2 linked regions of the Homo sapiens genome follow. The protein of the gene in region 1 purifies or fractionates together with the protein of each later gene. This does not show direct contact. Each region holds a gene or a part of one and is shown on either strand. Other genes may lie near its edges. The genes, in order: TRAFD1 and NAA15.

Region 1 (3,823 bases):
ATAGCATGTTATCCAGGTGTTCAAGATTTTAAAATGAAGCCAGATGTGGTGGCTCACGCCTGTAATCCCAGCACTTTGGGAGGCTGAAGACAGGCAGATCACAAGGTCAGGCCAACATGGTGAAATCCCGTCTCTACTAATAATTAGCTGGGAGTGGTGGTGGGCGCCTATAATCCCAGCTACTCAGGAGGCCGAGGCAGGAGAATTGCTTGAACCTGGGAGGCAGAGGTTGCAGTAAGCCGAGATCACACCACTGCACTCCAGCCTGGGCAACAGAACAAGACTCCGTCTCAAAAAACAAACAAACAAAAAAGAATTTTAAATGAAATGACAGCTTGTAAGGCAGGCTGTGTGCTAAAGAGGTTATCCCATACTGGCAACTCTAGGGCTGGCTTCATATTCAGTGAGGCTGCCAATAACCAAACCCCAACAGAAATAATAGACTCAGTTCCAAAGGGAGATACTTCGCGAGTCTCAACATACACAAGTGAGTTCCAACAGCCAGGTAGCCGAATCTGGCAGCAGTTACATAGTCAAGGCCTCAAACAGGCTTTGAGAAACAGTATGCATGTGAGCTCACGGAGAACTAACACTCAACCAGACTGGCTTCCTGCTCTGCATGTGGGTCTGTAATCTCAGCAGGACTGGGCCCACGGTAACTCACTCCATGGACTAACCTCATGCTTCTTTAACAGCCTCTTCTCCAACTTCTTGTTACATTTGCAGGTCACCTAGAGTAAGAAGTGAGAATCAGTAAATTGGCTTTGGGACAATATGCTCATTTGCTATTGCACAATAGCAAACAGAATACATTTACGAACAACAGCAAGTATAACACATGTATAAACATTTGAGTACTTGGTGGCTCACCTGACAGTGTTCTGCAGCCATGTGAGTCTCCATGTCAGATTTGGGAAATGGTTCCTTACAGGTAGGACACATACCAATGTTCCTTTGACAGTGGATCTCATGGATGGTAAAGTTAAACACAGGAATTTCTTTTTTGCTACGGAAATAGACCAAAGAAAAAGGCAAGCATTACTGACTAATCTATGCCTTTTCTTGCACAGTGGCATCACATGGAAATCTGTCCTGTCCAATCTTTAGTCTCCATTATTTATCTTTAGTGAATACCTAGCCTACAAACTCATGACTATTACCATTCCTGCTTTTCAAGAACTAAATCCTGGCCAGGCGCGGTGGCTCATGCCTGTAATCTCAGCACTTTGGGAAGCCGAGGCAGGCGGATCACCTGAGGTCAGGCGTTCGAGACCAACCTGGCCAACATGGTGAAACCCCATCTCTACTAAAAATATAAAAATTAGCCAGGCGTGATGGCGGGCACCTGTAATCCCAGCTACTCGGGAGGCTGAGGCAGGAGAATCGCTTGAACCCAGGAGGCAGAGGTTGCTATAAAAAAAAAAAAAAAAAACTGGCCGGGCGCCGTGGCTCACGCCTGTAATCCCAGCACTTTGAGAGGCTGAGGCGGGCAGATCACCTGAGGTCAGGAGTTCGAGATCAGCCTGGCCAACATGGTGAAACCCCGTCTCTACTAAAAATACAAAATTAGCCAGGTGTGGCGGCACATGCCTGTAATCTCAGCTACTCAGGAGGCTGAGGCAGGAGAATCGCTTGAACCCGGGAGGCGGAAGATGCAGTGAGCCTAGATCGTGCCATTGCACTCCAGCCTGGGCAACAAGAGCAAAACTCTGTCTCAAAAAAAAAAAAAAAAAAAAAAAAAATTAAATCCTTTCCAGGTGCAGTAACGCCAGCACATTGGGAGGCTGAGGCAAGCAGATCACTTGAAGTTAGGAGTTCAAGACCAGCCTAGCCAACATGGTGAAACCCCGCTTCTACCAAAAATATAAAAAATTAACCAGGTGTGGTGGCGGGTACCTGTAATCCCAATTACTCGGGAGGCTGAGGCAGGAGAATCACTTGAACCCGGGAGGCAGAGGTTGCAGAAAGCTGAGATCATGCCACTGCACTCCAGCCTCGGGGATAGCAAGATTCCGTATCAAAAAAAAAAAAAAAAAGAACTAAATCCTGAAGGCTCTTCTGTGCAACATTCTGAGTTACCGGTGCTATGCACTACTACATCTAAAAGCTCAGCCTTACTTTCTCAAAGTCAGAGCTGATCACAACATGAAGTCAGATGCCAAAAAGAGTGGAGCTAGGCTATTCCAAAACCATCCATGTCCCAAAGCAGAGTGATACGCTCCAGGATTATTTTAAAACAGAAAACAAACCAAAACAACAACAAAAACAAGTGAAAAAACACCCTACCACTGATTTTCTCTCACTTTTAAGTAGTTTAATTTCATTGGATTTTATTCCATGAAAAGTCAAACCAAAAAGAGAAGACTCCAGCTTTTGGACAGTCAAAGGGGAAGGGGAAATTGTCTCCTGTATGCCTCACATGCCTTTCGAAGCAGGCTGGATGCTTCCTGACTACAGGAACATGCTCTCTGGCTGGGTTGGTAGAAACTTCACTGTAAAGCTGTACAAAAATGAAATCCTGAACCCTTTCCTCCACCAGTCTGGTCTCTCCACTTCATTTTTGCCTTTCTCACTTAGTTTAGTGGTTCAAAGATCATATCTAAGCTATACAAATTAAGGAGGTAAAGTGATAATGTTACATGAAAGAGTAAGACCATTTAAACATGAAAAGATTATACATGTACTCGAACTAAAGGTACATTCTATTCAAAGGCCTTACTTTTACTTATTTGGATAGGACCATTGTAAAATTCCAATTTCACCAGCTAAAAACTACATTAAAGAAGGTACGTATAACAATAATTCAGAAAAATAAAATACTGAACAGGATCAATACAGATAGTCATAAAACACATTATTTAATACCATATTTTGCCTCTGAAGCTGAATACTAGAAGAACTGTCTCCCATACTAAATTATAAATAGCTTATTTCTCTTTTAATAACCTTTAATATTCAGACATTGTCTAAGAAACATTTTGAAGTAGGATAAATGATGTGCCTCCAGCTATAGTCATTCTTCCAAACTGAAAGACCAAGACACCAAGGAAGTGCAAATTCATTTTCATCCAGTGGTGGAATTATCAAGCTAGGGACCCCAAGGCAGCTCTCAAAGCAGCACTGGAAGGTGACAGAACAATCAACTGTGAGAGATGGGAAGAAAACTCAAATGGATAAAGAGGAAAATTACTGACAGATTTAACTTCCCATATTTCTCTCAAATTTTTAGCTTTCTAAGGAAACTACTCATTTTGAATTAATTTAGTTAAAATAATACATCCCAACTTTTTAAAGATGTTGTGAAATGAATACTTTAATACATTACTGGTGGTAGTATAAACTGCCTAAAAACAGTCTGAAAATTCATTTCTAGGACCATAAAATTATATACTCTGTAACACAATAATCCTACTCTTGGGATTATGTATGAATATTTTCATTACAGTATCATAGAATGGTAAAAAATGAAAGTCATTAAAAATACCTAAGCAAGAAAGGAATAGCTAAGTTACATATAGTATACCAACAAAGTGAAAGAAGAAATGTTATATTGTGATTGTAAATCATGTATGTACAAATGCCATGAAAATTAAAGCCAGTAATTACTGCTTAGGGTGTAGAAAACCTGGGTTCCTTTTTCATAATATTGGCAATAATTTTTATTTTAATGGTAAATATGGAGACACTAAATGTCTAGCATTTACTTTACAAGGCTGTTCAGGATAACTTGTTGACATACTACATACACAAGGCCCCTAAAACTTTAGAATTAAAACAAAAAATATTAAGGACCACACCATCATAATATGAAGCAACAAGAATC
Region 2 (3,823 bases), on another chromosome or scaffold:
GCTGCCTTGATCTACAGTGAAACTTAGGTCTTTTTCCTCTCCCATTTGCACAAACTCATTTTTCTTTGATCTGCAGATATGTTTTTTATACTTATGTATGTCTCCTCCAACCTTCTTTCATAATCTAATTTGTTTATTAAACCTTGTTTAATACTTACTAAATTATTAAATTTTTTATTTTTTTAAGCTTTGTTTAATTTTCTCATTTATTTTGCCGTTTTTGAGTTGTAATCACTTACTCGGTTGTACTATAACCTAGTAGTGAACAGTCATTACCTCACACAAAATAAGAACATTTTTTACCCAAATTATTAACAATGCCAGCTAGCCTGAGAACCCTGTGCAATCCCTTTTGCTAAGAATCAGCCACCTTTTCATTGTGTGTTTTAACCATTGGTGCTTGCTTAATTTATTCATTCTGTTAATAAGCTAATAGCATGAACCAAACATTCCAGTTTAAGATGTCAAAGGACCCAAATCAAAAACCCCTTAGAAAAGGTTTTATATTCCCCTTCTCGCTCATCAGTTATTACTTTTCCTTGATTCTCAAGACTTATTACTCTTTCATGGAAGGTAATTGAGTTAGTAGGGGATTTGCTACTTTCCTGAGGCCTTGATGTTTTTTGTCAGTTTTACCACATTCAAAGGCTTTTTAGAGTTTTTCTCCCCTGCCCACTAGTCTTTAGCAGTAAATGGACATCTGATAATCTGTGACATATGATGTTGCTCCTTTTCTTAAGGGTACACATAAAATTTCATTACACAGAATTCCATAGGACATTCTGGGTTTTACTGCAGTAGAATTTTTTTATCCTTTTTGTAATTGATATTTTCCTGGAGGTTAACAATTCTAGTTTTCTGGAACTGTAATTTCCAGGAAAATATCCAGAAAAGTTTAGGAGAAAATTAGTAGGCCTCAAACTTTTTGGAATCAGCTGTTAGTGAAGTTATTTGCTTCAGTTTTGGTAGAGTTTTTTTTAGCAGTTTTAATTTTTCTGGGAGATTGTTTAATCTGATTAAAACAAGTTAAAAAAAGATAATGAAAACCATAAAAACCCCTTGCCTACCCCTCTCTTCATCAACTATGATACAAACTATGCAGATATTTTTTACATGTAAAGTATCCTGAAAGCATTTCAGGCAAACCAGCAAGGCCTATGTAAATAATTTTTATTGTACAGAAGATACATTCTTTTTGAGATAATTAATGTCATTGCAGTTGGCTGTAACCTATTTTAATAACTTTTTTCTGTTTCCTCTCTATTCCTGCTTTTCCACTGAAAAACAAGTATTGATAGATTGACAAAACCAAGTTGAAAGTACAGCCATAGTAGAGGTTAAACTAAAGTATTTCACTATAGCTCATTTACTTGAACCACCCAGTTTTATAGAATAATAGAAGAAATGCTATTTAACCAACAAAGAGCATGTCAGTGAATTATTCAGCTAATAATTATGTATAGAATATTTCACTTAGAAAATGTTTCCTACTGAGTTCATTATATTTTTTAAACTTAGATTAATGATCCATTAGCAGGATAGTGGGTCATTACCAGCACTCAAAAACCCAAAATAAAAATAGAATAGTGTAGAAAAGATCAGCATATGTTGCACACAGTAAGTGTTCTGTGAAACTTTTGCTTCACATAAGTTATGGATATGGAATATGTATTTGTCGCAGTACAAATACCTGATTAAAGTGAAAATTTGAAAGTCATCACCATAGTTCCCAGCCATAAGGAAAATCTACGTAATGTTTTCACACTATGATAAAAATAGTAACTATGATTTATTGACTACCTATTACATAATTAGCACTTTTACACAGTAGCTTTTCCTTACTGTAAATCTTTTAGATTAGATATCACCCCAGTTTTATAGATCAAGAAATAGGTTCAGAGAGGTTATGACTTATCCAAGCCTGGATCCATACCCAAGTCTAACTGGCTTCAAAGCTCCAGACTCTCTCTTTATACCAAAATGATAATGAAACAAAGTATAACTTGGATTCAATCCAGAGGAATCATCTCTAAATCCCAAGGCCTGGGAATATGATGACAACAGTGCATTCATTCATTTATGTATTTATTTTGAGACAGAGTCTCACTGTGTCACCCAGGCTGGAATGCAGTGGCATGATCTTGGCTCACTGCAACCTCCACCTCCCAGGTTCAAGCTGTTCTCCTGCCTCAGCCTCCTGAGTAGCTGGGACCACAGGCACACACCACCATGCCAGGCTAATTTTTTTATTTTTAGCAGAGACGGGGTTTCGCCATGTTGGCCAGGTTGGTCTCGAACTCCTGACCTCAAGTGATCCACCCGCCTTGGCCTCCCAAAGTGCTGGGATTACAGGTGTGAGCCACCGTGCCCAGCCTATTTATTAATAGGAAAATGCTTTGGTGGTCCTTGGGAGTTTATTATACAGTGATAGCTCAATTTACATAGTTTCTGAAATAAAGGTCAATGACATCAACCATGTTTTCTTTTGTTTTTAATTGAAACGTGTGCCTTACTTGGGTATAGAGGAAGATAGGGAGGGTGAGGAAAATTTGTTGTCTTCAGCACTACATAGTTGGCTGTGATACTATTTACCAGGTGGGTATTCCCAAGTTGCTGCTTTGCAGACCTTAAGGTTGAGGGGGCAGCTCTAGGGGTTTAGAAGGCTGTGAAACTACTTGTTTTGTCATCTCCTTTGCTTACAGTTCCTTTCTGGAAATGAATCTCGTGTTAATAAAATTATTTGAATGCCTTTAGAACATTAGATTGTTCTGCTGACATACATTCTTTTTAATGTGTATTGCTGGGCATGATGGCTCATGCCTGTAATCCCAACACTTTGGGAGGCCAAGGTGAACAGATCTCTTGAGCCCAGGAGTTGGAGACCAGCCTGGGCAACATGGCGAAACCCTGTCTCTACAAAAAAATAGAAAAATTAGCTGGACGTGGTAGCTTGCACCTGTGGTCCCAGCTTCTCAGGAGGCTGAGGTGGGTGGATCACTGAAGCCTGGGAGGTTGACGCTGCAGTGAGCCATGATTGCGCCACTGTACTCCAGCTTGGGTGGCAGTAAAACCTTGTCTGTCTCAATCAGTCAGTCAGTTTATATAGGTAAGCTCTTTTTGCAAATGTTAAATTATCAGTAGGTTTTATCTTGTCTTTGTATATAATTGCCATGTTTCATTGGCCTCATCATTAGGTAATTTAACTCCTATAGGCTGGGTGTGGTGGTGCACACCTGAAGTCCCAGCTACCTGGGGGGCTGAAGTGGGAGGATTGCATGAGCCTGGAAGGTTGAGGCTACAGTGAGCCATGGTTGTGCCACTGTACTCCAGCCTGGGTGATAGAGCAAGACCCTGTCTCAAACACAAACAAAAATAAACTTTTGTAAACTTTATCAGAGTATTCAACTGCTAAGATTTTATTTTTAATTTATTCAGCAGTGTGTGAAAGTAAAGATTTATCTGATACAGTTAGAACAGTATTAAAACAAGAAATGAATCGTCTTTTTGGAGCAACGAATCCAAAGAATTTTAATGAAACTTTTCTGAAAAGGAATTCTGATTCATTGCCACACAGATTATCAGGTAATCACTTTATTTTATCCTTAGCCTTCTAAAACAACTTCAGTAATTTTAATGAATCAACAATAATATAAGGTACATGTTTTTAGAATGGAAGAGGCAGTGTGTATATGTTACATTGTGATCGTATGAAAACAGGCAGCTTAAATAAGCTTCCTAAGCTGGGCACAGTGGCACATACCGGTAGTCCCAGCTACTCAGGATGCTGAGGCAGAAGGATCACTTGAGCCCAGGAATTTGAGGC

What was found.
Region 2: the proteins of TRAFD1 (region 1) and NAA15 purify together in Homo sapiens (affinity purification with mass spectrometry; 2 studies listed by BioGRID and IntAct, with this or other methods). This does not show direct contact.

The regions. Positions count from the first base shown.
Region 1 is NC_000012.12:112,131,921-112,135,743, reverse strand, and holds part of TRAFD1 (TRAF-type zinc finger domain-containing protein 1), read right to left. Parts: intron 1,007-3,823; coding exon 871-1,006; intron 732-870; coding exon 678-731; intron 1-677. UniProt on the Homo sapiens protein: Negative feedback regulator that controls excessive innate immune responses. Regulates both Toll-like receptor 4 (TLR4) and DDX58/RIG1-like helicases (RLH) pathways.
Region 2 is NC_000004.12:139,381,397-139,385,219, forward strand, and holds part of NAA15 (N-alpha-acetyltransferase 15, NatA auxiliary subunit), read left to right. Parts: intron 1-3,435; coding exon 3,436-3,582; intron 3,583-3,823. UniProt on the Homo sapiens protein: Auxillary subunit of N-terminal acetyltransferase complexes which display alpha (N-terminal) acetyltransferase (NAT) activity. The NAT activity may be important for vascular, hematopoietic and neuronal growth and development.